Regions from separate parts of the Homo sapiens genome. Here all the other regions are linked to region 3. The links come from fine-mapping of genetic effects on gene expression. A gene starts in region 3. Each other region holds a variant in brackets. All regions are shown on one strand. Distances are from middle to middle.

Region 1 (11,070 bases), 97 kb before region 3:
AGTGAGCCGAGATCACGCCACTGCACTCCAGCCTGGCCGACACAGCGAGACTCTGTCTCAAAAAATAAAAAAAAAGAACTGAGCTGTTTAAAGACTCTGAAGGAATAAGTCAATTCTGGGAATTAGGCAACAATGCTCTGGTGTCTGTGCGGGAAAAACATTACATATGAACCTAACTTGCAATAAGGTCCTTTTGGCAACACGATTATTAAACAAACAAACAAACAAAAAATCCTTCTATCATGAGTCTTGCCTTTTAAAAGGCTATGGTTAATGACTACGATTTTTTTTTTTTTTTAAGACGGAGTTTTTGCTCTTATCGTCCAGGCTGGAGTGCAGTGGCGCAATCTCAGCTCACTGCAACCTCCACCTCCCGGGTTCAAGTGATTCTCCTGCCTCAGCCTCCCAAGTAGCTGGGACTACAGGCGCCCGCCACCACGCCTGGTTAATTTTTGTATTTTTACTAGAGACAGGGTTTCACCATGTTGGGCAGGATGGTCTCGATCTCCTGATCTCGTGATCTTCCCGCCTTGGCCTTCCAAAGTGCTGGGATTACAGGCGTGGCCACCGTGCCTAGCAATGCCTATGAATTCTTATAAAGGACTCCCATTCTACAAAATGGAATTATAGCAATGCCTGAGAGATACAAGATCCAGAATGAAAAAGAAGAGAAAACAGTAAAGCAATCTTTTCTATCAGTTGCCAAGAAAGGGGAAAAAAACAATTAATATTTTATTATCTTTGAAAAAGCCTCATGCACTGTTAGAATGACTAGAAGAATTCTTCCCCCATCCATCAGCGCATCTGTTCCCCCACTTAAAGCATGCCTACATACAATGTTCCAGGTACTGGGGACACAACAGTGGTGTTAAAAAAAAAAAAAAAAAAGAAGCAAGCCAGGCACAGTGGCTCAAGCCCGTAATCCCAGCACTTTGGGAGGCCGAGGCGGGCGGATCACGAGGTCAGGAGATCGAGACCACGGTGAAACCCCATCTCTACTAAAAATACAAAAATTAGCCGGGCATGGTGGCGGGCGCCTGTAGTCCCAGCTACTGGGGAGGCTGAGGCAGGAGAATGGCGTGAACCCAGGAGGCGGAGCTCGCAGTGAGCAGAGATCGCACCACTACACTCCAGCCTGGGCCACAGAGCAAGACTCCTTCAAACAAACAAACAAACAAACAAACAAAAACGAAAACAAAACAAAAATGTAAGGCAATTTAAATTTAACAGAGTTTAACTGAGCAAAGAACAATTCGAGAATCGTGCAGCTCCCCAAACCAGAATAAGTTCAGAGTGACTCCGTGCTGCCATATGGTTGGAGATTTATGTTAATAAAAAGGAAAGTGATGCACAGAAAATGGGGATGAGGTGCAGAAACAGCCGATTGGTTACAGCCCGGCATTTGCCTTATTTGAACATGATTTGAACAGCTGGCTGCTGTGATTGGCTGATACTCGGTGATTGCTGGGAGATTATGTCTCCCTAATGTCTGTTTACAGATCCAGTTAGGTCACAGTTCACTATGTACCAGGAGACCTTTAGGAAAAACTAAAAATATGTAAGGAGTCAGCTTTAGGCTAAACTTAATTTAAAGGGGGGCAGAAGTATGCAGGGGCTCTGCCCATAGGGACGAAGGCATTAGCCAACGATTGCACTGATGAACTTACATGAGCAACTGGGATAAGGGCTCTGAGAGGGAAGAACACAGTTCTTGAAGGAATACAACAAAGGAACCTGAATAAATGCAACTTTTTAAACTCCATTTGGAGGCCAGGCACGGTGGCGGTGGCTCATGCCTGTAATCCCAGCACTTTGGGAGGCCAAAGCAAGCAGATCACCTGAGGTCAGGAGTTTGAGACCAGCCTAGACCAACATGGCGAAACCTTGTCTCTACTAAAAATGCAAAATTAGCTGAGCATGGAGGTGCATGCCTGTAATCCCAGCTACTCAGAAGGCTGAGGCAGTAGCTTGAACCCGGGAGGCAGAGGCTGCAGTGGGCCAAGACTGTGCCACTGCACGCCAGCCTGGGTGACAAGAGCAAAACTCTGTCTCAAAAATAAAAATAAAAATACCATTTGGCTTCTGTATAAGCCTTTTATCCTTTTCACCAACACAATTCTAAGTAGAAAAAGTAAACTAAAACAAATTAGAATCTAAACATTATTTCCAAGATTTCTTCACTTGTTTTTAAATAGCAATTTCCCACTAACAATATCATAAACATAGATTTTTTTTTAAAATGAATTTTTAAACAAAATTCCCAGCATGGAATATTTCTACCTGATTAAATATTTAAATTTTAATATTAAAATATTAAAATGCAAATAATCTAGTACTTCCAAATAAAATAACTATCTCAAATATTAAATTATCATTTCTTTAAAAGGACTTTTTAAGATATACCACACTTTTTATAGAAGGGCGGGCTGATCACCTGAGGTCGGGAGTTCGAGACCAGCCTGACCAACATGGAGAAACCCCATCTTTATTAAAAATACAAAATTAGCCAGGCATGGTGGCTCACGCCTGTAATCCCAGCTACTCGGAAGGCTGAGGCGGGAGAACTGCCTGAACCCGGGAGGCAGAGGTTGTGGTGAGCTGAGACCACTCCATTGCACTCCAACCTGGGCAACAAGAGCAAAACTCCATCTCAAAAAAAAAAAGAAAGAAAGTGGATACATTTCTGTGAAGAGGAGGCATTAAATACTATAAAAGTCAATGTTCTGTTTTTTGAAGGTTACTGCTGGTGGGGCTCAGGGAATTCCACCTCAAAACATGACTGTAGGAGACAAAAATTTGTACCCCAAATATGCCTTTTTGGCATAAGGATTATTTTGAGAAACAGCAGAAACTGGAAAAGCTCTGAAAACATAAAGCAAGTTACCCTTTTGTAAGAGAAATTTACATCCATAAAGGGAATCTCCATTTGTAAAGGTGTCTCCATCTCTGTACCAGAAAGAAAGGGATGGCTCTAAATCTAAACTAGAAACTCTTATCAATGGGGCAGGCACCTACTTAAATCTGCGCAACAAACCTTACCCTTGTTTAGATATTTCCTGATCACCTCCCCATAACAGGTTTTCTCTACGCCTCCTCTGTTTCTGTAGACATGTATTAAAGCCACCTCCTAGACATTTATAGGCATCTCTTTAATTGCACTTCCCTTTATGGTATTTTGCTAAATCTACTCTGCCTGTGCTCTATAAAAGGAACAAGAAAGCCTGGATGACAGCACATCTGTTGACAGCATGGTTTACTCAATATTTTAAGTCCACTGTTGAGACCTGCTGTTCAGAAGAAAAGATTCTTTTCAAAATATTACTGTTCATTGACAATGCATCAGGTCATCCAAGTGATCTGATGGAGATGGACCAGGAGATGAATGTTGTTTTCACGCCTGCTATCACAACATCCCATCCTGCAGACCATGGATAAAGAAGTAATTCTGACTCTCAAGTCTTATTTAAGAAATAAATTTCTTAAGGCTATAGCTGCCATAGTGATTCCCCTGATGGAGCCGAGCAAAGTAAATTAAAAACCTTCTGGAAAGAATTCTCCATTCTAGATGCCATTAAGAATACTTTTGATGCATGGCAGGAGGTCAAAAATGTCAACATTTACAGGAGTTGAGAAGATGATTCCAAACCTCATGGATGATTGAGGGGATCAAGACTTCAGTGGAGGTTAGTAACTGCAGCTGTTGCAGAAACAGCAAGAGAACTAGAATTAGAAGGAAAATCTGAATACTGAATTGCTGCAATCTCATGATAAAATGTGAATGGGGCCAGGTGCAGTGGCTCACGCCTGTAATCCCAGCACTTTGGGAGGCTGAGGTGGGCAGATCATGAGATCAGGGGTTCAAGACCAGCCTGGCCAACATGGCAAAACACTGTCTCTACAAAAATACAAAAATTAGCCGGGCATGGTGGCACATGCCTGTAATCCCAGCTACTCAGGAGGCTGAGGCAGGAGAATCGCTTGAACCTGGGAGGCAGAGGTTGCAGTGAGCCGAGATCAAGTCACTGAACTCCAGCCTGGGAGACAGAGCAAGACTCCGTCTCAAACAAAACAAAACAAAACAAAACAAAACAAAACAAAACAAAACAAAACTTGAATGGATGAGGAGTTGTTTCTTATGGATGAACAAAGAAAATGGTTTCTTAAGATGGAAGCTACTCCTGGTGAAGATACTATGAATGTTGTTGAAAGGACAAGGGATTTAGAATATTACACAAACTTAGAGAGGAACTGACCCCAATTTTGAAAGTTGTACTGTAGGTAAAAAGCTATCAAACAGCATTGCATGCTGCAGAGAAATGAAAGGAAGAGTCTACTGATGCAATCAACTTCACTGCTGTCTTAATGTTTATGACTCTCTAAAGGCTCAAATGATCATCAGCACTTTTTAGCAATAATTTTTTTTTTAATTTTTTTTTTTGAGACAGAGTCTTGCTCTGTCATCCAGGCTGGAGTGCAGTGGCACGATCTCGGCTCACTGCAACCTCCATCTCCTAGGTTCAAGTGACTGTCGTGCCTCAGCCTCCCGAGTAGCTATGATTACAGGTGCACACCACCATGCTCAGCTAATTTTTGTATTTTTAGTAGAGATAGGGTTTCACCATGTTGGCCAGGCTGGTCTCGAACTGCTGACCTCAAGTGATCTGCCCTCCTCGTCTTTCCAAAGTGCTGGCATTACAGGCATGAGCCACCATGCCCGGCCACTATTTGTAATGAAAATATGTATGTTGTTTTTTCAGACATCATGCACATTTAATAGACTACAGTATAGTGTAAATATAATTTTTATATGCACTGGGAAACCAAAAAATTAGTGTGACTGCCTTGTGAAATTCACTTCATTGCAGTGGTCTGGAACTGAACCCAAAGTATCTAC[A/G]AGGTATGCCTGTACTCTGGAGATTCAGTTGGTATTCCCTAGGCATCTCTCATGAATACGTGAAGTATATATGTTAATAAACTTCTGTTAGTTTTCTTTTGTTAATCTGAAGTTTGCCACAAGTGTTCTTGCCAACTGAGAACTCGGGAAAAGTTATGTTTTCCCCCATGCTAAAACTAACAAGCCACTGGAAATGAATGGAGATAAAAACCTTTCTATTTTTCTCGTGGGTATAATTTCAAAACATTCTGATGGCAGCCATTGGCTGTAAAACCTGTGTACAACATTCAGTGTATTTCAACAAAGCTTAATAATTAATGAACATCCTATGTCATTAATTTATAATAAATCCAATCTGTTTCAGAATTTTCAAATGCACTGCTTAAGATTCTGTCCCAGTGGTAATTAGCTAACAGTGACAGTCTTTAAATTCTTTTATTTGCATTTGTCATAATACGCTTTCCGGACAATCTAGTGAATGTTCAGTGAGTGACTTTAAGGGTTGTGGCAGTGGTCAGGCTATCTGATTACTTTCCCTAACGAGTGAGGAGCTTTTCTCATCATTAGAATACATGTCAGAATAGAGACTTCCTGCATTAGACACAAATAGGTAGAAATTTTTGTAATTATGCTTATTTTTACCATTAGGATTCCCAACAAATTTTGATAATTTAATTTGGTTCTCTTCCTTATGTTGATATGGAGGTACTGGATAAAATATTGATTTAATTTGGTAAATATTACTGTTATAATTTGGTAAAATAACATGAACTTTTATTTAAAAAGCAACTGAGTGCTTGCTTGGACACTGAAGAAATAGCTTCATAGTATTCAGCCAAAGCTGTTTATGACTGATACTTACATCAACAAATACAGACCACTTAATTTTAAATCTAAGTGTTCATCAAGAGAAATTAGTCTTTCTGAGGTGGGCTTTTTTTCCTTTTTTTGCTAGTTTTGCAATTATGCAAGACATCAGTAAAGTTGTTCCTTTTCAATGCCTCATCTCCATATTTACATTTCAACCACTTGGTACCTTGTCTACCGAGGAACATAGAGCTCAGAGGCTCTTCCCAAACTGCCAAATCCTCCAAAAACAGATATTTAATAGGGTTTACTCAGTTCCACAAATGATGAGCCAGCTACCACCCATCAGAATTCATTCATCATTGGACCTATTAAACCCATCAGAATAAAATGCTAATTTGGATTTAAATGCTCATGAAGACTTAACCCTACCTAAATGATCTATCTATCTATCTATCTATCTATCTATCTATCTATCTATCTATCTATCTGAGACAGGGTCTTACGCTGTCTCCCAGGCTGCAGTCCAGTGGTGTGATCACAACTCCCTGTAGCCTTGACCGCCTGGGCTCAAGCGATCCTCCCGCCCCAGCCTTCTAAGTAACTGGGACTACAGGCACGTGACACTATGTCCAGCTAATTTTTGGTAGAGATGGGTCTTACTATGTTACCCAGGCTGGTCTCAAACTCCTGGGCTCAAGCGACCCTCACGCCTTAGCCTCCCAAAGTGCTGGGATTTCAGGCATGAGCCACCGAACCTGGCCTGAAAATGTCTTTTAAATAGCAAACAGCCAGGTGCAGTGGCTCACGCCTGAAATCCCAGCATTTTGGGAGGCTGAGGCGGGAGGACCACTTGAGCCCAGGAGTTCAAGATCAGCCTGGGCAACACGGCAAGACCCCATCTCTTAAAAAAAAGTTAGCCAGGTGAGGTGACCCTCACCTGTACTCACAGCTACTTGGGAGGCTGATATGGGAGGATGGCTTAAGCTCAGGAGTTCGGGACTACAGAGAGCTATGATCATGCCACTGCACACCTGCTTGGGTGATAGGCCAAGACTCTGTCTAAAAAATCAAAATAAAAAACATCTCCAGTTACCTTTCATCCAAAGGACTACTTGAGATGTTAAATTTGGCCAAGAGAAGAGACACTAGGAGACAAAAATTGCCTTAAACTTATGCTACTCCTTAAAGACTATATAGTACATAGTCATGAGTTTAGAACTACCTTCACCTATAGTTGAACTATCCCTTTCTGGATCCTTGGTCAGACAGTCCCTCATCTTTCATCTAGTGTGTACTCTGAAAAGGAATATTAGACATGTGCTTCCAAATGTAGCAATGAAAACTCTAGAAATATGAGTAGTAGACAGGTAAAAACAGCAATATGTGAATATTAAAAGTGTTATAAAGAATATTATATAATGATAAAAGAGTCATTTCACCAGGAAGATAGAATAATTATAAATATATATGCACCCAATATCTGAGCATCTAAATATATAAAGCATACAATGACAGAACTGGAGAGAGCAATAAACACAATACAATAGTAGGAGGAAATCTGAATTCCCCACTTTCAGTAATGGCTAGAACAAACAGACAGAAAATCAATAAGAAATAGGGGACTTGAAAAACACGATAGACCAAATGGACCTAAAAGACATATATAGAATATTTCACCTCAGAGCAGCAGAAGTGCTATGTTCCAGGATATGTCCCAAAACAAGTCTTAATGAATTTAAGAAGACTGAAATGACACCAGGTATTTTTTCTGAGCACCACAGGATTAAAGTAGAAATCAATAGCAGAGAGAATACAAGATAATTCACAAATATGTGGAAATTAAACAATATACTCTTAACCAATGAATGGGTCTTTAACAACCAACAAATGGGTCTGAATATGTTACCCCAAATAATCTTTATTTAATGGATTTTGAGCCAAATGCCACTGAGAATCAGCAGACTCAATATGAAGCTCTAAAATCAAGGCACAAATTTTCTTTTTGTAAAGGAAATTTATATTTAAATAGAAAATTTCCATTTGTAGAGATATCTCCCTCTAACTCAGTAGGGATATGATAACTCCTAACATATCAATGGAGAAGACATCAACTTAAATGTGCATACAAAACCTTACTAAACAACCCCTGTTTATTATACTTTTCCTGGTCAATTTCCCATAACTTGCTTACCCAGCCACAAAGCCCCAAGCCTCCACTCCTTTGTTTTAGTCTAAGACAGTATTTAAGCTCAAATTCTAAACACCCATTTAGGTTACTCATAGCTGTGTGCTCCCAAGTGTACATACATGATGCACATGCTAATAAACTTCTGTTTGTTTTTCTCCTGTTAATCTGTCTTTGGAAAGATTAAGCTGGAAAACCTGAAATGAGTAGAGAAAAAGACTTTTTGCCTTTCCTATAGGGAAATTATAAAATATCTTGAGACATAAGAAAACAAAAATACAACATGCCAAAACTTACGAGATGCAGCAAAAGCAGTGCTATGAGGAAAATTTATAGCTATAAATGCCTACATTAAAAAGAAAGAAAAAGGCCAGGCATGGTTGCTCATGTCTGTAATCCCAGCACTTTAGAAGGCCAAGGTGGGAGAATTGCTTGAGGCCAGTAGTTCAAGACCAGCCTGGGAAACATAGGGAGACCCTGTCTCTACAAATAATAACAAAATTAGGTAGGTGTGGTGGCATGCACCTGTGGTCCCAGCTACTTGGAAGGCTGAGGTGGAAGGATCACCTGATCCCAGGAGATCAAGGCTGCAGTGGTCCATGATTATGCTATAGCATTTCGGCCTGGGCAACAGAGTGATACCCTGTCTCAAAAAGAAGAAAGAAGAAAGAAGAAAGAAGAAGAAAGAAGAGGAGAAGAAAGAAGAGAAGAAGGAAGAGGAGAAGGAGGAGGAGGAGGAGGAGGAGGAAGAAGAAGAAGAAGAAGAAGAAGAAGAAGAAGAAGAAGAAGAAGAAGAAGAAGGAAGAAGAAGAAGAAGAAGAAGAAGAGGAAGAAGAAGAAGAAGAAGAAGAAATACTTCAAATAAAAACAAAACATTATACCACCAAAGAGCAAGAAAAAGAAGAACAGGGTATAAAGCTAGTGCAAGGAAGTAATAATGATCAGAGCAGGAAAAAAAAGGAGAATATAAAAACACTGGGGAAAAAAACTCAATGAAACAAAGTTTTTTTTTTAAAGACAAAATTGACAAACCTTTAGCTAAACTAAAAAAAAACTCAAACAAAAAAAAATCAGAGATGAAACAGGAGATATTATAACTGATGCCACAGAAATAAAAAGGACCATAAAAGGCTACTATGAACAATTAAACAATTATATGCTAACAAGCTGGAAAACCTAAAAGGAGGAGAAAAATTTGTAGAAATACAGAACCTACTAACATTGAATCATGAAGAAATAAAATATCTGAACACACCTTTAAATAGTAAAGAGATTGAATCAGGAATTAAAAAAAAAAAAAATCCCGCCCCCATCCCCTGCCCCAAAAAAGCTCAGGACCAGATGGCTTCACTGGTGAATTCCACCAAACATTTAAAGAATTAATGCCAATCCTTCTCAAACTCTTCCATGAAATTGAAGAAGAGGGAACACTCTTGAACTCAAATTACGAAGCGGTGTTACCGTTACCCCATAGCCTAAGACACTACAAGACAAGCAAACTATAGGCCAATAACCCTGATGAAGACAGATGCAAAAATACTCAACAAAATACTAGCTATCTGAATTCAACAGTATATTAAGGGAACAAATGAGATTTATCCCTGGGATGTAAGAATGGTTCAACATACACAAATTAATAGATGTGACACACCATAGTAACAGAATGAAGGATTAAAAAAAACACATGACCATCTCAACAGCTACAGAAAAAGAAATTGACAAAATTTGATATCCTTTCATGACAAAAGCTCTCAATGAACTAGGAATAGAAGAAAATTTCCTCAAGATAATAAAGGCCATATATGAAACCTCACAGCTGACATCATCTCAGTAGTGAAAAACTATACCTTTAAGATAAGGAACAAGGCAAGGATGCCCACTCTCACCACTTCTATTCAACACAGAGCTAGAAGTCCTTACCAGAGCAATTAGGCAAGAAAAAGAAATAAGCACTGAAAAGGAAGAAGTAAAATGTGTTTGTAGATGACATGATCTTATTTGTAAAAAAAACTTTTAAGAATCCACAGAAAAACTGTTAGGACTAATAAAGGAATTCAGTGAAGTTAAAGGATACCAAATCAACATACAAAAACCAGTTGCATTTCTACATACTATCAACAAACTATCCAAAAGGGAAACTAAGAAAACAATCCTATCTACAATAGCATCAAAAATTACTTAGGAATAAACTTAGCAAGGTGATGAAAGACTTGTATACTGAAAAATCATAAAACGTTGATTAAAGAAATTTTAAAAGATACAAATAAATGGAAAGATATCCTATGGTTATGGATGGGAAAACTTAATATTGTCAACATGTCCACACTACCCAAAGCAATCTACAGATTCAATTCAATCCATATCAAAATCTCAATGGCATTTTTTACAGAAATAGGAAAAACAGTCCTATAATTCATATGGAACCCCAAAGACTCTGAATAGTCAAATGATCAGGAGAAGGAACAAAATTGTAGGCATCACACTTTTCTATTTCAAAGTAGATTACAAAGCTATAGTAATCCCAACAGTATGGTAATGGAATAAAGACATATAGACAAATGGAACAGAATAGGGAGCCCAGAAATAAGCCCACAAATATATGGTCAACTGATCTTTAACAAGAATGCCAAAAATACACAATGGGGAAAGGACAGTCTCTTTAACAAATAATGCTGGAAAAACTAGATATCCGCATGCTTAAGGAAGAAATTAGACCTATACACAAAAATCAGCTCAAAATGGATTAAACACCTAAATGTGAAGCCTAAAAGTGTAAAACTTCTAGAAAAAAAGATAGGGAGAAGGTTCATGACAGTGGTCTTGGCAATGATTTCTTGAGCATGACATCAAAAACACATACAATAAAAGCATAAATAGACCACTAGGACATAAACTATAAGGCTTCTGCACAGCAAAGAAATCAACAGAGTAAAAAGGCAACCTACAAAATGGGGAGAAAATAATTGCAAACCATATCATCTGATGAGGGGTTAGTATTTAAAATTTAAGGAACTCTTACAACTCAACAACAATAAAACCAAATAATCAAATTTAGAAATGGGCAAAGGAACTGAATAGACATTTCTCCAACGACAACATACAAATGGCCAACAGGTATGTGAAAAGATGCTCAATACTACTAATCATCAGGAAAATCCAAATTAAAATCCTCATGAGCTAT
Region 2 (9,473 bases), 20 kb before region 3:
GTGACATTTTGACCCTCTGCCTAGAAAAGGTTGCACTCTTGAGTCACTTTAACTCATCCTTTAAAGCAGAAACTCACTTCATTAAAATAAGCAAAAATTATCTGAGGCACCTAAGGAAGGTGGGGAGATGTTCGTTTAAACCTTGATAACTCAGTATTTCCTCCTCTTGATGAGGACAGAGTGACTGGTCACTGCTGAAGTGAGCATGGGAAAAATTAAACATCTCTAGGCCAAGAAAGTAGCTTAAGTCAAAAAAGGCAACTGATCTGAAATACACCGAATCTACAAAAACTGTTTCCCATTTCATGCATACACAACCCTACAGAGGGTATAAACACTACCAGCAAACCGTGCTAGGAGGTCACAAGCACTCCCTGGAGCATGCACGAGCAGCACAGTTTATAAAACGTTCTATAGGCAGTGTGGGAGACAAGGGCTGGATCTGGCTCCGACCAAAGGGTGGAGCTAATGCATACCTTTTGGTCTTCTGGAATTTCCATTCTTTTGCTGTTCGTCTTCCTCATTAATGGTGAATAAACCAAGAGGAATTGGCCTTGCATTGGTCTTCTTCAGTCTCTCATGTCGGAGAGCTGTAGCTGATCCAGGCATACCGCTGCTACTTGTTTTTTTTTTTTTTAATTGTGATTATATTAAAAATATATGCTTATGTAATTGCAGCTCCCAGGAAGCTGCTAGTTCCTAAGCTGCCTGTTCATTTGAGCACTTGTAATAGATCCCCTATGGGTAAACAGTTTGCAAACAGCTGACAGATAGTACCAGCCACTTGGCAACTGAGGCCCTGCAGTTCCCCTCACCTAGCAGCAGCTTCCCCACCTCCCCTACCAGCCCCCTCCCACTGACTCCCCGACAGGCACATGCGCTGGTGATTGCTCCGGCTCATGCATGCACGTACACGCGCGCGCACACACACACACACACACACACTCCTTCCAGAAAAGCCCTACTACAGACACGCAGGGTCTGATGCCTCCCACCACTGCACAACCTGTTCAATCAGATCCCAGCTTCTTCCTGCTGCAGCACCTTTTTCCAATCTTCTTCCTGCTACCACACAGTAAAATATTCAGCCCACAGCAGAGAGGGGAAAATATGATATGCTGCCGTTAACAGTTGCCCTGACAACCCTAACATATCCTAATCAAGAAGGGCCCAGAGCGGCTCCATCTCCCCAGCTGAGAAGCGGCAGCTTGCAGGATGCTGGGTTCTGGGAACTCACCAGCAGAGGGTTACAGCGTGAGGCCGCTGGGCAGCTCCCTCTTCCTCTCAGCGGCAGCGCAGCAGGATGGGAGGAGAAAGAGTTTTGCTTGCACAAGCAGCAGTAGACTCCTCAGTATGGAGACAGAAGCCTGAGGAAGAAAGGCTTTTTCTTCTTTTCTGGGCCAGGTTGTCTATCATAACAATGTTTGCAAGCCCCTGGATGAATGAAGGCATGGCTGGTACCCACAGAGCAGCTCACTTTACTTTCCTGACATTCTTACCACCCCAGAGCATGTATAAGAACAGGGTTGGCAGCACCAGTCATGAGGGCCACCAGTGCCATGTCCCTGAAACCCTCTGGTGAAGACAGGCAAGGGAAGAACTATGCTGGCTCCCACCAGAGATCACAACGTGGAGTGTCTCCTCTGCAACTCAAGTTTCAAGGACAGAACCTATACTGGGGAATTCTCCAAAGGAGAAAAACCTGTCTCTATTACACCCAGCACACCCCCCACCCTCAATCCCTACCGCTCTGGGCAGTTGCTACCAGCGGTGCTGAGCAATGCTCAACACTTGACCCAATTTTAGCTCTTTTTTGGATCGTTTTCTTCAAAGCACAGAATCATGTGACTATTGTTTTCTCCTGAAATAAGCTATCTCACTTTAAGACTCTCCACTTCTAGACTGCTTAAAATGTGTGCTGTCTCCAAAAAAAATTTACAATAAATGACATTAAAACATGCCAACTGCCAAATTAAGAAAAAACATTTTTTTTGCTTTTGTGTTTTAATAAAAATCAAGTCTGCTTAGCAAGTCAAAAGCAATCCTCCCACTCCCCAACTACTCCCTTACTTTTTCTCAGTACTTAAACCTACTTACCCAAAAGAGGGCCCAAGGGAGTCTAAGGCAAGTACAATATCCTCTCTAAATCTCTTGCGTGGAACAGTAACTTTGGACAATTCACTTAACTCTCTCAGTGCCTCCGTTTTCTCTGTAAAATTGGGGTGATGACTATCATTTACCTATGGTATTAGGGTGAGGATTAAATGCGTGTAGTGCTAGCAACTTGAAGTGCTTAATAAATACCAACTATTATTATACTTTATAATAGTTTGCTGTAACTAGTCCATTTTTTGCTTTGTAATTATTTTCAAGGTATTTCCAGTTCAACTATCAATGCTACCAGGAAGTACTTCTTTGTATCTACTCTTATTGTCCAGCATGGTGCTGGGGGATGTACTAAATTGTGAGCAAACACATGCTGAAAAAAATAAATGAATCTTAAGAACTCTTTCCCTCCACAGGCTGCTTGATTTAATTAAGTTCACATGTATTTAGATCTCTGGCATGAAGAAACGCAGGAAATTTCAGTTTTAGAGTTTATTTTAAATTGTGTCAATCTGTGCAGTGGGTCTTTGGAATAAAATAGAATGGAGTTTTGGAGCTGAATGGGCCTGAGAAAGCAAGTGAGTCAGCATCGTTTTACATGCGAGGAAGCTGAATCTCACGAAGTGAAATTCCTTGCCTAGGTCAAATGTTAGTTGGCAGCAAGTCTACAATTAAAATTTAGACCATCTTCCTCCTAGTCCAGTGCTTCTCCCGATGACAAATGTTTGACCCAGATGTTTTAGAATCCTAGATCGATCTCCAATTTATGTGGAGATGGAAGGAAAGGGAGGACGCATATAAGATCTTATTGTTTAAGAAATAAAAAAATGGATACAAATTGTAAACGTAACATACTTCCATAATTTTCTATATTTGTAAACTTTTATTCTTGAATGAGACATGATTTGTTATTTCCTATTATTTTTCTTTAATCAGATGATCAATAAACACAGGTGTAATATACATCAATATCATACTATTTGTGAAATGAAAATATTTTCAAATCCACATTAGCTTCTTTCCTCTACTTCAAGAGAGTCAGGTCAGTATTTACAATAGCAAAAGCATAACAAAACAAAAAAGCAAAATAATAACAAAAAAAACCCCACATACAAAATAAGCATACTTGAAACTACCTTTTGGTAAAGAAAATGAAAATCTGTATTAAGCAAATGACTAATTTCATTTAGAAATGTTTGTCACCCAAATACAGCTTACAGCTTCCAAACAAAGCTAGCTGCTGCTCTAATAACTAACACATTATCTCCACTGAGTCAAGATGCTCTCATCCTGCTGTCGTGTAAATCCTGACCCCAACATCAACTAGCTGTGTCACTGTCACAGAAAAGCAAACAGCACAAGATCAAATAATAACAATAAAGGATTTTTTTCCTTCCCTTATAAAGGACACATTTTTCACTTAAGACATAAATTCATTTGAGATTAGTTTCTTAAATGTTCACACCCAATCTTTAATGGATATAGGGGTTAGCTCCTGGGGAATTCCAGGAATACTGTGGCTTGATCCCTGTAGAGGTGTGGGTACCATCTTCTCGCAATTCCCTTTTACATTTTGATCCAAACCAAAGGCAAATACGGAAAGGGATATGGTGAGACCTTAAATTTAAATATCCGCCAAAGTAAAATAAACACTACTCTGAATTCCTGAACTCTTTGAGATGGAGTCTCGCTGTCGCCAGGCTGGAGTGCAGTCGCAGTCTTGGCTCACTGCAACCTCCACCTCGCGGGTTCAAGTGATTCTCCTGCCTCAGCCTCCTGAGTAACTGGGATTACAGGCATCTGCCACCACACCCAGCTAATTTTTTTTTTGCATTTTTAGTAGAGATGGGGTTTCACTATGTTGGCCAGGCTGGTCTTTGACTCCTGACCTCAAGTGATCCACCCACCTTGGCTTCTCAAAGTGCTGGGATTAAAGGTTATAAGCCACCGCGCCCAGCCTCCTGAACTCTTCTCCAGCACTAAGGAGCATTTTCAATTAGATGTGGCACAACTATCCTTGCATGTCACATGCAGATACAGAGGCTTAAATCAGTCCCCATGGGAAATGGGCATGCAGCCCTCCAACAATCAGTAAGGTTTTGCAATTACTTTCTTTAAATTGTTAAAGTGATAAATGTTGTATTAATAGAGGCTTTGTACAAATTTGAGAGAAATGAGGCACTGCCTAGTGCAAAATGGTAGATTTTACAACTAGATTGGCTTTATATTGCGTAAAAATATTCTGCAGTATAATTTCAAAATGTATTCACATTTATGGGTAAAAACATTACCACTCAGCTACTATGATTAAAACAGTCCAATAGGCCCCCGAGCAACTGCAGGCCCCACCCGCTTGGTCCACAATAAATTTATGTCTCTTTGTCCTCCTACCCTGGCTGGTTGGCATCTCTGGCCTATGTCCAACCTGTGAGTTGGATGAATATGAAACAGAGTCAAACTTGCTGATCTTTGGGGAAGTAAGCTCATGACTTGGGCCTAGCTGTCACAATGCTATATAAAAGACTAACATGTAGTCACCTGCATACACATACGCACACATAGAGTCAGCTTTCTGTTCACAT[T/C]TATGCTTCCTAGACTTGTGTGACCATAAAGTTGGAAAACAGCACACTCCATGAATGAATCCAAGAAATCTGCTTAACCAGTGAGAAACATACCTAAAATTTCCCTTTCTAAAAGCCCAGTGAGCTTTACAAAAACATTATTGAAAGAAAAAAGAGCCTAATTTGTACTATTCAATGGCTGTAGCTGAAAACAGAAATTATTACTGCTGGATTGAATGGCCTGTCACCAGTAAATTACAAGTTCCACGTATGTATAAGTTATTTACTTTTCATCAGGGTCCAGAAGTGCCAAAATTCTTTTCCACGTTTCAACATTCGAAGAGATGGTTAATTCTTCAAAACTACCGGACTTCAGCAATCTTTTAAGTATTTAATGCATCTCCCCAAGATAAACTGAAATTTACTTCTAGCAGGAGTTTTAACAATATTTTTATGCAACTTAAAAACTTTGCATGATTTTGAAAATGACAAAGCCAGCACAGGTTGACATGGAATCAAACAACCACTAAGGAACAAAGGGTCCCAGCTGGTTCTTTGCCACTCTATTCTTGAAGTTAAAGGGCAGCCTCAGAGTTTCCTAGAATTATGCCACTTACTGATGGCTTTTGTGACGATAAAGGCACAACATTCTGCCATCTTGCAGCATCATGCATAGCATAGAAGAGGCTGGATAAAGAAATACTGCACAAAGAAATATCATCCCTTTGAAAGGAAGAGGCAGATTTGCTTTGATCTTCTTTATTTGACCACTTTTTGTTAACAGGCATATAAGAAAAACAGTAAATACTGCCCTAGTAGCGGTGATGCCATCAGCCAGAAGTACCAGGTCCCTGTGGTGCCTTTTACAACATTTCTATAAATCTTCACTGCAAAACACTTCATGGTGCCTACAGAGTCCATTTTCCCATGTCTGCTCTATCATAAACAAATTTCAAACGCTAGGGATTCATTTATACAAATGTAAGGTGTGGATACTAAGCTTTAAAACCCTTTCCTAAATGTTAGGTGTGAAATGCCACATTAAACCTTAACCCAGTAGCACATAATGGAATGCCTCTCAGCCCTCTTGTTCATTACTCTCATTGATAATACTTTATTAATGTGCACTACATGAACTTCTGAATTACTTGATAAAAGTTAAATGTGCAAAGACTGTCCTCTCTTCTCACGATAATTAGGCTAAGAAATCCAATTTTATAGATTCCAAATGAGGGAAAGAAATCAATCGCTGGGTTCAACAGAAGATTCATACAGATGCCCGGACTGTGTTTCTGTAAGTTACCTAATTCACTGAGGGTCTGTGAGCAGTTTAATTTAGTGTTTAATTTAGTTTTATTGTTGAGCCACACCATTAGAAAGAAAATGAAACTATGGTTCCTTGACTTGCTTTGCTTTAGGAGTAGTAAAATCATGTTAAAGATGACAGATGGGGTGCTTTGGGGCATGCCATCAGAGAGGATACAGAGCCAAAGGCATAATGTTTTCACCAAACAGAGGCAGTGGGGAGCCACTGAAGGGTATTGATAGCTAAATGTGTGATCCAGACAGGCCAGGATGAACTTGAAGTGAGAAAGAGAGAGACGGGACAGAGACTAGCTATGTAACTACTTCGTCCAAGTAAAGAAAAGGGATCAAATGGTGGTCATAGGGATAGACGTAAAAACAGGAATATGAGAATCAATCATGTTTGTGTTTTTTTAACAGACACCCCTCTAGCAGTGTGAAAAACTTATCCATAGGCTTGAACGTGAATACCAAGCTCCTGCAATAGTCCAGATGAAAGATGGAGAAGTGGGCAATGCAAAGAAAGGTAGTTATGTTTTTATTAAAGATTAATATGAGAACAAGTGCTCTATATCCATAGAAAAAAGAAAGCTAAGAGATGGATAGACTCAGGTCCAAAATGATCTCAAAGAATGAAATAATGAGCTATACTTAGACAGGATACAGCCTATTCAGTTTATTCCCACTGAATAGGCTATATTCTTATCCATTCAGTAAGAATAAACAGGAACATATCTTTTTATATGTAAAAAAAGTTCAACTGGACAGGTACAAAATGAAGACCTACCCAAGCTGCCCCAGAAACAAAGCGAGCACTTGGACAACAAGCTCACTAAACATCATCAGCGCACTGAGGAAGTAAAAACCCTAAGTGTCACAGTGGAATCGGCAGACACCAGCGTGCCTAATAGGAGGACAAGCGTTCTCTGTTTACTGGTCCTCATACTACATGGTACTCGCAAGATATTTGAAATAGGATGATAAATGAGAACACTTTCAGAAGAGAGTGACCTAGGACTTACCATAAATATTCTAGGCCATAACATAGGAGACATAACATAGAAGAAAATAAGACAAGACTCCAGAGGAATAAAATAACAGAATTAAAGGTTAACATATGGAAGAATTTACACTTTTAGTGGAAGTGTAAATTTAGTTCTGGAAGAGAAAACTGGGACCAGGGACTGTTAAGTTATCAGAATGTAAAAAGTTATGTTTCTTGACATTGAAGATAGCTGTGCACAAACACTGATTTGGAATGATGATGTTGGATTAATGCACTGTTTACAGGTTGAATTTTTTTTTTTTTTAATCTCTAGAGCTTCTTCTGATCCTGAGATTCCATGACTTGATGCAAATGGAAAGTCGAGTTATATAACCAAGAGAGAACACTCAGGCAGAGGGAAAAAGCAAGGCTGAGATAAAGCCCTCTCCTTTGCTGTACCTGTGCACATACTTACTCGCATGGCTTCATTTTGTAAGCAACTCTGCGTTTCATTATTTTACTTATTCAACTGATGGTCCCGAGGTTTTAGCCTTAAATGCTAAATCACAGAAACAACTGAACCTTCTCCAGGTGTTTGGGTTAGAAGAGGGCCACACTACTCTGATCTCCGCACCTGCGGCTTCCAGACTTCCCACATTCTCTCACCCACAATGTAATGAAAACCTACTGATATACATGCCTGTAATCCCAGCACTTTGGGAGGCCAAGGCGGGTGGATCACCTGAGGTCGGGAGTTCGGGACCAGCCTGACCAACATGGAGAAACCCCATCTCTACTAAAAATACAAAATTAGCCGGGCATGGTGGCGCATGCCTGTAATCTCAGCTACTCGGGAGGCTGAGGCAGGAGAATCGCTTGAACCCAGGAGGCAGAGGTTGCAGTCAGCCGAGATTGGGCCATTGCACTCCAGCCTGGGCAACAAGAGTGAAACGCCATCTAAAACAACAACAAAAAACCTACTGATAAAGATGAATAAGAGAGTTTTCCCCTCAATGAGCCAATTTGTTATAGGTGGATCCCTATAGCTATGTGACTTGAGAGATGAAATCTAAATGAAGAGCGATACTAAAGAACAGCAAACCAATTCAGTGTATGACTTTTTGGGCATTTTAAGGATAGTGACAGCATTAAGTCTTTAGGACAGCAAAGCATCGGACAGGTGAAGAACATTCATTTCAGAATGTTTTAAGACTTTTCCTCAATCCCATCTGTGTTAGTCCGTTTTGTGTTGCTATAAATACCTGAGACTGGATAATTTACAAAGTTTTGTTTTGGCTTAGAGTTCTGCAGACTGTACAAGGAGCACAGTGCTGGTATTTGCTTCTGTTGAGGGCTCAGGACGTTTACAGAAGGAGAAAGGGAAACAGGTGTGTCACATGGCAATGGAGCAAGAGAGATATCGGGCTCTTTTAAACAACCAGCTCTCACATGAACGAACAGAATGAGAACTCACTCATTACCATAAGAGGAGTACCAAGCCATTCATAAGATCGGCTCCCATGGCCCAGACATATCCCACTAGGTCTGCCTCTAACATTGGATGTCATATTTCAACATGAAACCATATCTAAACCGTATCACCATCCTTTGCTACTTTGCCACTCTTTCCATTTCTTTCTCCTAAACCCCCCTGAAATTAAAAGACATCCATTTTTTTACTGAAAGCGTAATATCCTGTTTTTACCTTCAAAAATCAGGAAAGATTAATTATTAAATTTTATCTCTTAAATAAAGCGATTTGTATGATTCTGGGTAAAAACTGTTAATTTTCTTCTTGAGGGTGAGTGTATCAGTGAGGATTCTTCCACGAAATAGAACCAATAGTATTTTTGGTTGTTTCTCTGGAGAGAAATATATTGTATATAAAGACTTATTTTAAGGAATAATGGCTGCTGCCACTGTGGGGACAAACAAGTGTGAAATCTGTGCAGCAGGCTGGCAGGCTCGAAACTCAAGCAGGATTTCCATGTCACAGTCTTAAGGCAGACTTCCTCCTTCTTCTTCTTTCCCAGGCCTTCACCTGATTGGATTTGGCCCACCCATAGCCAGGATAATCCCCTTTACTTAAAGTCAACTGATTGTAAATGTTAATCATAGTTACAAAATACCTTCCCAGCAACATCTAATGTTTGGGCTGAGCCCAGCTGACACTTAACCTATCAGTCAGTGACCTCAGAGAGATTAAGATACTCCATTCCCACATTCAAGTCAACATGCTGCGAACGAAAGCATGCCATTCAAAAGTCAAAGGCTTATGTATCAATGATCATAATCTTCATTGAATAGGATGGATTCTATTTACTCAGATAATTTTCCAATACTGTAATGCTCTATTAATATAATGTTCCTACAGTTGGGGTCAGGATATCTTAGACTTATTAAATCCCTCTTTATTTTCACTAATGATCACCCTTTGAGAATCAAGTACTGGTGAGCTTAAAAGCATTATCAAATGAACCCTTTTAATGAGAACTAAGCAGCCTGTTCATCTGAAC
Region 3 (11,070 bases):
CCCCTGCAGAACCTTAAATTAATCGTCTCTTCCTATTGCCATGCTAATGACTGCCTGGATTTCTGCAGGAATCTCAAAGTTGGTGTGTATGTCGCTGAACTCTTCTTCAGTCCATCCTCAAGTCCACGTTGCTACTTTGAAATGAGGACCAGCTGAGTAGACCTAGCCCTTCATTGATCTCCAGAGATTTGGCTAATCTGGCTAGGCAGATATTCCTCATGCATTCTCATCCCTCCAGGTGCACCCTTCCCAAAGCAGTAAAAGAAAAAAAAAAAAAAATCAATGGAAGAGAATGACTTTCCCAGAGGGAGGAACTTTGCTTTCATTAGCTAAAGGCACAGCTGAGCTCTTGTTAGAACTTGCAATCAATATTTCAAGATTCATGGGCACAGAACTACCTGATTATTCCTGCTTTAATCAATATCCTTTATTCTCAAGAATCCTCAACACTTCCCCCACTACCCTACCCCAGAAAAATGTACTAGCCTCTCAGTTTGGCCTTCAGCCCTTCCACAATTTGACTTCGATGAACAATCATTCCTAACTGACCTAGGACTTTCTTTGAGCTTTACACATGTGTCAATATGACCAAAACTTTGCTCTTTTTCACACCTGCATCTTTTTCTCCCTTTCCTCCATCTAATTTTATATCCCACTTACCCATTTTTAAAAGTTTATTTTTTTATTTTTTAAATTAAAACAAATTTAATTTTTTTTTATTTTTGTGGGTAAATAGTAGGTATATATATTTATATGGTACATGAAATGTTTTGATACAGGCATGCAATGTGAAATAATTACATCATGGAGAATGGGGTATCCATCCCCTCAAGCATTTATCCTTTGTGTTACAAACAATCCAATTACACTCTTAGATATTTTTAAAAGTACAATTAAGTTATTGACTATAATCAATCTGCTGTGCTATCAAATAGTATTTGTTACTATTCTTATTCTTTCTAACTTTTTGTTTTTTGAGACATGGTCTCGCTCTGTCACCCAGGCTGGAGTGCAGTGGTGCAATCTTGGCTCACTGCAACCTCAACCTCCTGGGTTCAAGTGATTCTTCTGCCTCAGCCTCCCAAAGAGCTGGAACTATAAGCGTGCGCCACCACACCAGGCTAATTTTTTTATTTTTAGTAGAGATGGGGTTTTACCACGTAACCCAGGCTAGTCTCAAACTCCTGGCCTCATGTGATCTGCCTGCTTCAGCCTCCCAAAGTGGTGAGATTACAGGCGTGAGCTACTGCCTCTGGCCTTTTTTTTTTTCAAACCATTAACCATCCCCACCTCCCTGCCACCTCCCACCCCCTACCCCCACTACTCTTCTCAGCCTCTGGTAACCATGCTTCTACTCTCTCTGTCCATGAGTTCAATTGTTTTGATTTTTAGATCCTACAAATGAGTGAGAAGATGCAATGTTTGTCTTTCTGTGCCTGGCTTATTTCACTTAACATAATGATCTCCAGTTCCACCACTTTTTAAAATTTAACTTCAGTGCTGTATCCAGTATGTTCTTCCTGCTGACCACAGCCGGAAGTGATTCCTCCTTCACTGAACTCCTCATAACCTGCAACTGTTTGTTGGTGAATTTTGTCTTCCTTGCTAAATTCAAGGATCATTTGTTCAACAGCCTTCTAACCACCATAATGCTGAATACACAGAAGGTACACATTTCTTATTCTAAGCCTCAATATTTTCAATTCTTACATCAATACGAGGCCCGAGTTTTTAAAAATAACTCTTCCAAATGATTGTTTCTCATGCATTGGGAGGCAAAGATGTTAGAATTTTTTTAGAGAAAATGCCAGTGTAAATAAACTGTGTAAAAATATTTCACACAAGCCTATCAATATTACATAAATGCATGCTCCTGAGCACAATTGCCTAGTCTAATAATAACGTTTCCTCCTACTTAGCAAGATGTAAAGGTAACAGCCATATAGGATGGGAGAAAAGCTATCTAGCTATGTGAATGAAGCATCTCTTTCAAAGGGGACAAGCTTAATACCAAATTGACGTCTGAGCCCTTATTTAATTGCAGATATTTAATGTGGACCCTTAGAGTTAAGTGACACCTACAAGATCACTTTTTGATTTGGAAAAGTTCATGAAAGGATGGTCACGAAAGAGGCCATGTTCACCACACAGGTTGCTAAAATGGACAAAAAGCCCAATTCCAGATTCTAAGTCATGACCCACTTCCCAAAATATCAACAGAATTGACAGGTTATTGGCATTAACTTATTCCTTCGTGCATGAAAGCTTCATGAATTAATCAAAAGCAGCTTTAAATTTGCTTTTAGTTCAGGAGGTTTTTAAAACAGGCTATCAGACTAGGAAATTAGTGCTGTACACTCGCTTTCCACAGCTCTTGAACATGAACATAAAATTAAATATACAAAGCTTGGGTAGAGGCAGTTTTGTGAATATCACCCATCGTAGGTCGACTACTCAAAAAAGGCTGAAAAAGGACTTGACATCCTCTAGTGGTGATGTCTTAAACTTGTTTCCAAGGCAATTTTTTTTTTCCCAGCTCTTAACTTTGGCTGTTGGCAAGAAAAATATTATATTGGAAGAACTTTTCATCCTCAAGAAAAATAAATGTTTTCGCCACAAAGAATGTGATTTGACTAACTTTGAGAATATATACCCACAGAAATAGGGTTTTTAAATGTTGGGTTTATATAATAGCTTTCAATATGCTTAAGAACGGTCTCATTTCATAGGCCACACGCCACCACTGTCAATTCATCTTTGATACACATATACACACACACACACTCACACATATAATTCTGAACACATTACAGGTATCATTTTTATAATAACCTGATATTCTCATCTAAAGTGCCCTAAAATTAGACCAGTCTTTGTATAGAGACCCAAAAACTAAGAGTTATTTAAGAGTGGACTCTACCTCATAATAATGAGTTCTAAAAAGAAATAAAATTAATCCCTCAAGAAATGTTGCCATTTAAGGTGGCAATTTTCAACTCTTGATGGTAATAGTTTCTCTGTCCACGGCCACCCACCACCACCACCCCCCCCCACCCCCCCAACAATTCCATACAAACTTCTGATTGTTTAAAAAAATGAGACTTGCAGTATTTGGATGTGTATAATGTGAAATATGTTCACCAGAATGAAGTGCTAAATTAAAGTCTCATATTCAGATATAGGTCATGTGTTTTAAATATATGGAATAACTTAAGTTGTTGAAATTCAAACAATCTCACTTGTTCTCTCAAAATAACTACCACCTAGATTCAAAAAAATACATTTACACCTTCCTTCTTTCTTTGGCACCTGCTGACACAAATGCTTCTGAACACTAAAAACATTAATAGTAATCTTGGGGTAGAAAAATAGGAAAGAGATGCGGGGCCAGAATTAAGTTTTCAGTGAAATTATAAAGTATAATTATTCAAGACCATATATAAAAAATGTCCTTTGGAAAATGAAGTTTTTAGGCAAAAGTGTGGAAGAAATGTTTTCTATGAAGGAGATAACAGCCAATTTAACTCCCTTTTTAATAAAAGAAAATATTACACTGACAGGCACATGGTTGATTTGTATATTAATTGTTGGAAGCACGGCCTATTCCTTAACATGCTCAGGCACTGAATATCCTACAGTTTGTAGTCAGTTCACTTATGTCTGAACAAGTTGTTCACGTGCAGATTCTAGAAAGTTTATTTTTGAGCACAAACTAACACTTAGCTCGCTAGAACAATGTTGTTTCACATGCAGTTACTGGGTCAGGGTTAGGAACGAAAATCATGCCGTATATTTACAAATGAGGATGCTCCTCTCCCGGGGCCCTCACTTGGGGGAGCCCCGTCCCAGCGTCTAGCTCATCAAATTCCCGAAAGCAATTACAAAGGCATCTCTTCTCCACCCCAAAACAAAATAATGATCTACCAATCTTGCGAACACATTAAGACAAACTCCCTACAGGAAGGAGCATGACTTAAACAAGTTCAAGATACTTTGTCAGTCTTAACCTCAGGTATCTTGGCTGAAGGGATTAAATCATTAGACTTTACGTACCCAACCTCTTCCTAGCAATAGCAGATACATAATTTGCAAATACTGTTTCAGAGCTCTCTGGACCTTTCACGTTAAAATAAGCATACTTGATGGTGGGGAGACAGTGATTCTTACATTTAGGAAACAAATGCTTCCGATTGTGACCGTATGGAAGTGGAAAACAGCTTGCAATTGGAGAGTCTAAGAATTGAATTTCTTTTTAAAGTAAGAAACTGCCTCACTGCCCCCATCCCCAAGTGTAGGAAGATATAGAAACAGCTTACTGGCCAAGAATAGAAGAGGGAACCAGTGGAGAGGGACGGATTTGCAAGATAGCCTCTGGAGAAAAAAAAATCACGAGGGAGAAAAATCGGCTTCATACTATGGAGAGATGGGCGGGGTTGGGAAGCCTTGCTGCTGGTCTTGGGAAGCCTTGCTGCTGGTCTTGGGGACGTGATCCCCTGTCCCTAAGTGTGCCCCTGGAGGTTGTGGGGGAGGGGTATCCTCAACACAGAGGCCTGACCACCAAATCCCGGGCTGCAGAGCCAACAATCCTCCTTTGGGCTCCTGCACAGACTAAAAACAAAAAACTCTGAGAACTCCGACAAGTCAACGAAAGTCTGATCCCGTCAAGCCCGCACTCGCAAACCCCCACCGTGCTGCACTGGGCCCCGGCCCTCCCGAGCTCGGTCCCCTCGGACGACGGTCGTCGCCACTGCGGGCACCAGATTGGGGGGCGGGCCGCTCACCCCGCGGTCCTGCCCCACACCGACCCCGCTGAGGAGCCCCCGGCACCCGGGGCGACCAGGGAAGGCGGGAGGAGGTGCCCAGAAACTGCTCGTCCTGCCAGTCGCACCTGGCCGACGACTCTCTGGCCACTGGTTTGGTCTGGGGGATACGATTTCCCATTCAACTGAATTAGACCCGAGGCCGCGGCGGGGAGGGCAGCGGCCGGGGTCTCTCCGTTTCCTCCCCCGGCTCGCCTCCACCTGTTGCGGGAAAGTCGCGGTGGAGCGCCCGAGGGCGGCCGCAACCCCGGCCGGGGCCGAGCCGGGCTGGCCGAGCCGCGGCGGCGAAGGGCGGGGGAAGGCGCTCTCGGAGCAGGGTGCGCGGCGCGCAGGGCCGGTTGTTCCGGGCCGCGGCCGCGCGGGCGGGGAGGGGGCTGCCGGCGCCGGGTGATTTCGGTGCCAGCCCGCCGGCCCCGCTCGCCGTCCCCTGCCCGACGGGACCCCCACTATCCCCGCTGTGCGGTCACCTGTTTCGCTTCGCACTGCGCCGTCGCCGCCCCTGTGGCCGTCGCCGCCAGCTCCTAGCTCCGCCATGGTGCTCCGATGACGCGCCCGGAGAGCCGCTCCGCCCTTTCCTCGGCTTGGCTCCCGCCGGCCCCCGCCTCCCAGGCCAGCGGCCCAGACAGGTGAGCGCAGTCCGGGGATGGCGGAGGGCGGGGACAGAGAGCGCGGCAGTCGGCTGCGGCCTGGGCCTGGCGCGCCCCCTCGCGGGCAGGTGCGGCGTGGCAGCCGCTCCGACCGCCGCTGCCGAGTCTCGGCTGGAAGAGCGGCGGGCGGAACCAGTACCTCAGTCCGGAGCTTCCGGTCGCCGCGGCCGACCAGCTGAGGGCTCCCGGAGATATGGAGCGGGGTCAGCGAGGCCTGGTGGCGCCTCCTGGAGTCTGGGACGAGCGGCGGTCCGAGGAGCAGCCCAGGTGGGGCGAGGGTACGGAGACGCTATTTCCCTCCGAACTCTGAAGTAGCCAGGTCAGTGTCGGCTCCGCGAGGGCTGGAGTTCACGGTGACAGCCGGCAGAGCATCTGATGCCACGTGGAGAGGCGAAGTACATGGGTCGGATTCCACGCTGGGAGCCGGCCTGGATCTGCGCTTTAGGAAGCCACTGCGGGCGACCCTATCTTGTCGCCAGGACTTCGCATCTGATGAGCCTCAGGGCACACAAGTTAGAGAGGCTTGTGCCGGCTGATGTGGCTTTTCTTTTTCTTAGTTTCCGTTTAGTAAACGACCTTGTGACTTCTGGCTTGCTCAGGAAGACCAGAAAAAAAGGCAATAGGTAACGAATTTTTCTTTTTTTAAAGAAACAGATTATTGGCCGAGGAAAAACCAATTTCGCTCTAAAGGATAAGCAACAAAATACTGAGGGGGGAAAAAGCCTACACAAATGGAAACATACGGCACAAAATCAAGGAGCGACCAGTTCCGCATGGTTACACTAAAATGCACTGCACTCCCACTCTCTGGCTTGGCTGAAGATAACCAGCAAGCTCTGAACAGTTTAAAAGCCTTCCAAGGACTGCAGCAGCACTGGACACACAAGAGAGTCGAGAACAGTATTGGATTTATTGTTAGGGTTACAATTTTCACGATCTTTGCATGCAAAACTTGCCACTCTGAGCCCAGTGAACTATTTTTATTTGGTTTACTTACTGGCTTTCTGGATGACTAGGTAGAGCTTTAACTAAAGAACACTTCTGCTGTGGTCTGTGATGATGAATTTTCCCGTAGTGTCATTTCTATAATGGAATAGGCAAACTGACCATTTAGAATGTGATATTCCTAAATCACATTCAAATCAGTCTTATCAGAGACTTCTAATCAATAAAAATAAAGCACCAGATGGCTAGAGGTAGTTTTTGACCTCAGCTTGGGCCTCAGCAAAGATTTTTTGTGTTTTTTTTAACTACATTAAAACATCAGAGTTTAAGACACTTTTCTTTGAGCATCAGAAATACTCTCAGCTGAATTTAGAGTTGAACTATCCGGAAGAACCCTGGAGAAGGAGGGTGATTTATTTTCAACTTTCTGATTTACCACCGACTTAAATCAACCAATGAGTTCTTTCTTTGACCAAAAAAAAAAAAAAAAAAAAAAAAAAAAAAAAAAAAATTCAAGACTTGTGATGTTTCTATTTGTTTTGTTTTGTTTAGTTTGGTGTGTGCTTACTCATTGTCCCATTCTTTTGATAACCTGTATTTATCTGCCACAAGTTAAACAAAAATAAATGAAATAAGGAACACACCAAAATCCTGCACTTAGGCCCTGTATAGACAGTGTGTTCCAAACCTAAGGAGGTGTCTGCAACAGGGGAGGCTGCTGAGTGACTCTGCAGAGAACAGATGACATCTGTTAAATGTCAAACACCATCACGTCGTACTTCAAGTTGTACTTTACTTGGAACATGGAAGCCATCTGTCTGGAGCTCCCACATCCATTTCAAATCTTCAGGGTTCCCCATTCCAGGGGAGGAGCTGAACCTCCTGACACCGTCCACTTCCCTCCTGCCTCCTTCAAACATCATCCCTTTTTTCTCCCGAATCCCTAAATGTTTCTGCACCCAAGGGCTCTACCCCAATAAACACAGCTAAGACTCTTTGATTCTTAAAATGTCTTCCTTTAACGTCCCACCCTCCAGAATCTATTGTCGTATGTTTTGTTCACCAAAGGTAATAAAAATAAATGTGGATTTTGGTGCCGTTATTTTTCAAAAAAAGCTATATATTAATAGTTTTTCTTGCTTATGTATACAAATCAAATTACTTATTTTTAAATCCATCATTCCCCTAGAGTTTCTGCAGCACTTGATCCTCTAATCACCTTGCTCTTGGTCTACCATTGGCTTGGTTTTTCTCCTTCCTCTGTAGCAGTCCTTTCGTCTTTGTTGACTCAGATTCTTCCTCCCTTCTAATCCTCCAATATTTTTACCATCCCCTAATTGTAAACCACAGGCTTTTTATCTTTACTGTCTCTCACAGCCCTCATTTACTATTACTTCCATCCCGGATCCTGGTGACTCCCAACTCCAGAATATATACCCTTAACCTCACTCCTGACTTCCACTAATACATTCTGAATGGTCCCTGCACAATTCTATCAAGATACCCTGCTGTTAATTTAATATGTTCCAAACCACATTAATCTTGCAATATACAATCACTTTACACATACCTCTCCCTTGCTCAAAAACCTTTAATAGATTCCCCGTTCCTATATAAGTAAATATTAACTTCACCTCCTCACCATCACCACCACCACCCCCTAATTGGGCCCTGAGCTCTCTACTACCCATTTCCACTTTTCACCTCTGTAACTCATATTTCTAGCCCATGGAGTTGTTCATTCTCCAGAACACCTTCCAAATCCCTGCTTTCTAGTCTTTGTGCTTGAAGCTGCTCTGCCCGAAGTGATGTCCTTCATCCTGACGTATTTAATAATACTTTCCCTTTGAGGCCCAGGTTAAGGTCTACTTCCTCCATGAAGCCTGTTCTTCCTGCCCTGGCTCCCAGCATGCCTGTCCTTTGGACCTGGCCAGGGCTTGCTGGGCTTGATACTTGTCCAGCTGTTAAAATAGACTAGGCATGAGTTATTGCAAATTTGCCTTCTCAATCTGATGCACATTTTTGGTAGTAGGGTCTTTGTCCTCTACTTCTCTACAGGGTGTCCATAAAGTCTAGAACTATCAGTTATTTTATTTGTTCACGAGTTGCAGATGTTCTTGATGACATCATGTGCACTGCCTGCATTCTGAACTTGGTAGGCATGGTATATATCTTTTGTGTTGCTACCGTGCCTCACACACAGTGGGCATTCAAATGGGTTAATAATTCCTCAATGCCAAGCTTTTTTATGTGGTGGCCTAGGGATGAACGAAACCAAGTATCCAATGACAGAAGAAAGAGATCAAAATGCAGTTAAAAGGAAACATTAGATCTACTTCTCCCAGCAAATTCCTGTTTTGTTTCTTTTATAACACTGCCACCACCCCTGCATTAACTGTTCTGTTTCAAACCATCTTTCCAGGCTCAGCTCTGCACCTTCACTCCTCTGGAAAGCTTTCCTTGACCCCTTCTGACAGTAAATGTAACTATAGCACTGACTGCACCACTGTTGTTTCTGCTTTGTCTTGATTCCTTGACAAGAAACTTCAGGGGAAAGAACTGTATCTTGTTGGTGCACCACAATATGTAGTACCCAGTATTTAATAAATACTTTTGAATGAAGGATAAGTGATGGCAATAGCAAGCATATCTCAGTGTTTACTGTATGCTAAGCATTGTGCTGAGCACCTCTCCTGCATTGTCTTTTCCTTTTTGAGACAGAGTCTTGCTCTGTCGCCCAGGCTGGATTGCAATGGCGTGATCTCGGCTCACTGCAACATTCACCTCCTGGGTTCAAGCAATTCTCGTACCTCAGCCGCCCGAGTAGATGGGATTATAGGCGTGCGCCACCACGCCTGGCTAGTTTTTGTAATTTTAGTAGAGACAGGGTTTTGCTGTGTAGGCCAGGCTGATCTTGAACTCCTGGCCTCAAGTGATTCACCCACCTCGGCCTCCCAAAGTGCTGGGATTACAGGCACAAGCCACTGCGCCCAGCCTCCATTTTCTTATTTACATCTTATAGCAGACCTATGTGGAAGGTACATCATTTCCTCCATTTCACAGATGAGGAAGCTGAGACTTGGAGAAACTAATTCAGTTGTTCCAGGTCACAAGTCAAGTTACAGTTTTGCTTCAGGCCTGGGTGTGTAGCCTCCTGCTACGCTAAACAAATGATGAACGTTAACCATCTTGCTATTCCCTCTATAGAAAGGGGCTCTCCATTTCCCTCTCTAGCTGTTACCTGAAATAAGGAGGTGAAGCTTGATCATGTTAAAACACCTGTGAAACTAATTTTTAAAAAGGGTATCTGGGCCCAACCCCAGACCAGTAAAAACAGTTTTCCGGCTGGACACAGTGGCTCATGCCTGTAATCCCAACACTTTGGGAGGTTGAGGCAGGATGATCACTTGAGCCTAAAAGTTCGAGACCAGAGTGAGCTGAACATAGTAAGACCTTGTCTCTACAAAAAATTTAAAAATTAGCCAGACATGGTGGTGCATGCCTGTAGTCCCAGCTACTTGGGATGCTGAGGTGGGAGGACTACTTGAGCCCAGGAGGTCAAGAATGCAGTGAGCTATGACAGTGCCACTGCATTCTAGCCTGGGTGACAGAGACTCTGTCCCAAGAAAAAACAAATAACAACAACAACTCAGTTGTCCCAAGGTGGTGGCATCAATATTTTTGAAAAAGCATCCAAGTCATTTTAATGCGAAGCTGAGTTGAGAATCACTGGCCTAGATTGATCCTAAAAGCGTTTCAAATGCAAACCTTTCCATAATGGAGTCTTCCATAATGGAACTGTCTTCTTTTGTGCCTGAGACCCAAAATTCTCACAAATGGCTAATGATGTTGGCCTGGGAGTGTGTTAGAACCCTGTAGGGACAGAGGATCATCTGCTCACAAAGACAGGGTAAGAGGAAGGTACCAAGGAAAGATTGTATCCTTGAAGATTTGGTTTATGGTGGGTAGCTGGATCCTATATACAGTCAAAAGAAGCACTTCACCATTAGAATTGAGAAGATGAACTGTGGCTTAATAAACGGCTTACTCTGTGTTTCAGTATGAGCCAAATGGCATATCATTGAATTTATACCTCACTTATTTCAGAATATCCACACAGGATACCAGAGGCAACTCTGTCCTCCAAATTAGGATGTTAAAAAAGAGGCCAGAAGCAGTGGTTCACACCTATAAGCCCAGCACTTTGGAAGGCCAAGGCAGGAGGATCACTTGAGGCCAGGAGTTCAAGACCAGCCTAGATAACACAGTGAGATCCCACCTCTACTAAAAATTTAAAAATTAGCTGGTTGTGGTGGTGTGCCTCTGTAGTCCCAGCTACTCTGTAGGCTGACATGACAGGATTGCTTGAGCCTAAGGGGACAAGGCTGCAATGAGCTGTGATCGTACCACTGCATTCCAGTCTAGGCAACAGAGTGAGAACCTGTCTCGATCAATCAATCAGAAAACATTAGTGAGAATGTTTTCAAAATAAAGATGTCTTCTGCTTTGTCAAAGACTGTTGTTTATGAGTGAAATCATGATATACAAACAGCTCTATGTTATTTTTATCCTGCCTAATAAACAGGTTCCTCTGTATTTAAGAAAATGTATTTCATTTATCCATCTAGGAGCATCAGACTTCCTTTGATCAATATGGG

Evidence for each region. PIP is the estimated chance that this variant, and not a neighbour inherited with it, causes the effect. A credible set is the group of variants that fine-mapping cannot tell apart.
Region 1: its variant is the best candidate, but not a certain one, in a credible set for the expression of MAP7 in esophagus muscle (GTEx, PIP 0.82).
Region 2: its variant is the best candidate, but not a certain one, in a credible set for the expression of MAP7 in whole blood (TOPMed, PIP 0.53).

Annotation. Positions count from the first base shown.
Region 1 is chr6:136,448,133-136,459,202 of GRCh38, forward strand. The region is part of intron 1 of MAP7 (microtubule associated protein 7); the gene reads right to left. Among named protein-coding and RNA genes, the nearest start is that of MAP7, 97 kb to the right of the region's middle. The variant A/G (reference allele first, on the strand shown) is at 4,895.
Region 2 is chr6:136,525,356-136,534,828 of GRCh38, forward strand. All of the region lies in intron 1 of MAP7 (microtubule associated protein 7), which reads right to left. Among named protein-coding and RNA genes, the nearest start is that of MAP7, 20 kb to the right of the region's middle. RefSeq lists an enhancer at 411-1,221. The variant T/C (reference allele first, on the strand shown) is at 4,689.
Region 3 is chr6:136,545,055-136,556,124 of GRCh38, forward strand. It overlaps MAP7 (microtubule associated protein 7), which reads right to left and starts at 5,368. Exons shown (of 18, transcript NM_003980.6): 1 at 5,288-5,368. The coding sequence starts at 5,354. It overlaps MAP7-AS1 (MAP7 antisense RNA 1), which reads right to left and starts at 7,451. Exons shown (of 1, transcript NR_186370.1): 1 at 5,669-7,451. It also overlaps the pseudogene RN7SKP299. RefSeq lists enhancers at 4,204-4,742, 5,281-5,818 and silencers at 5,040-5,089, 5,100-5,279, 5,320-5,669.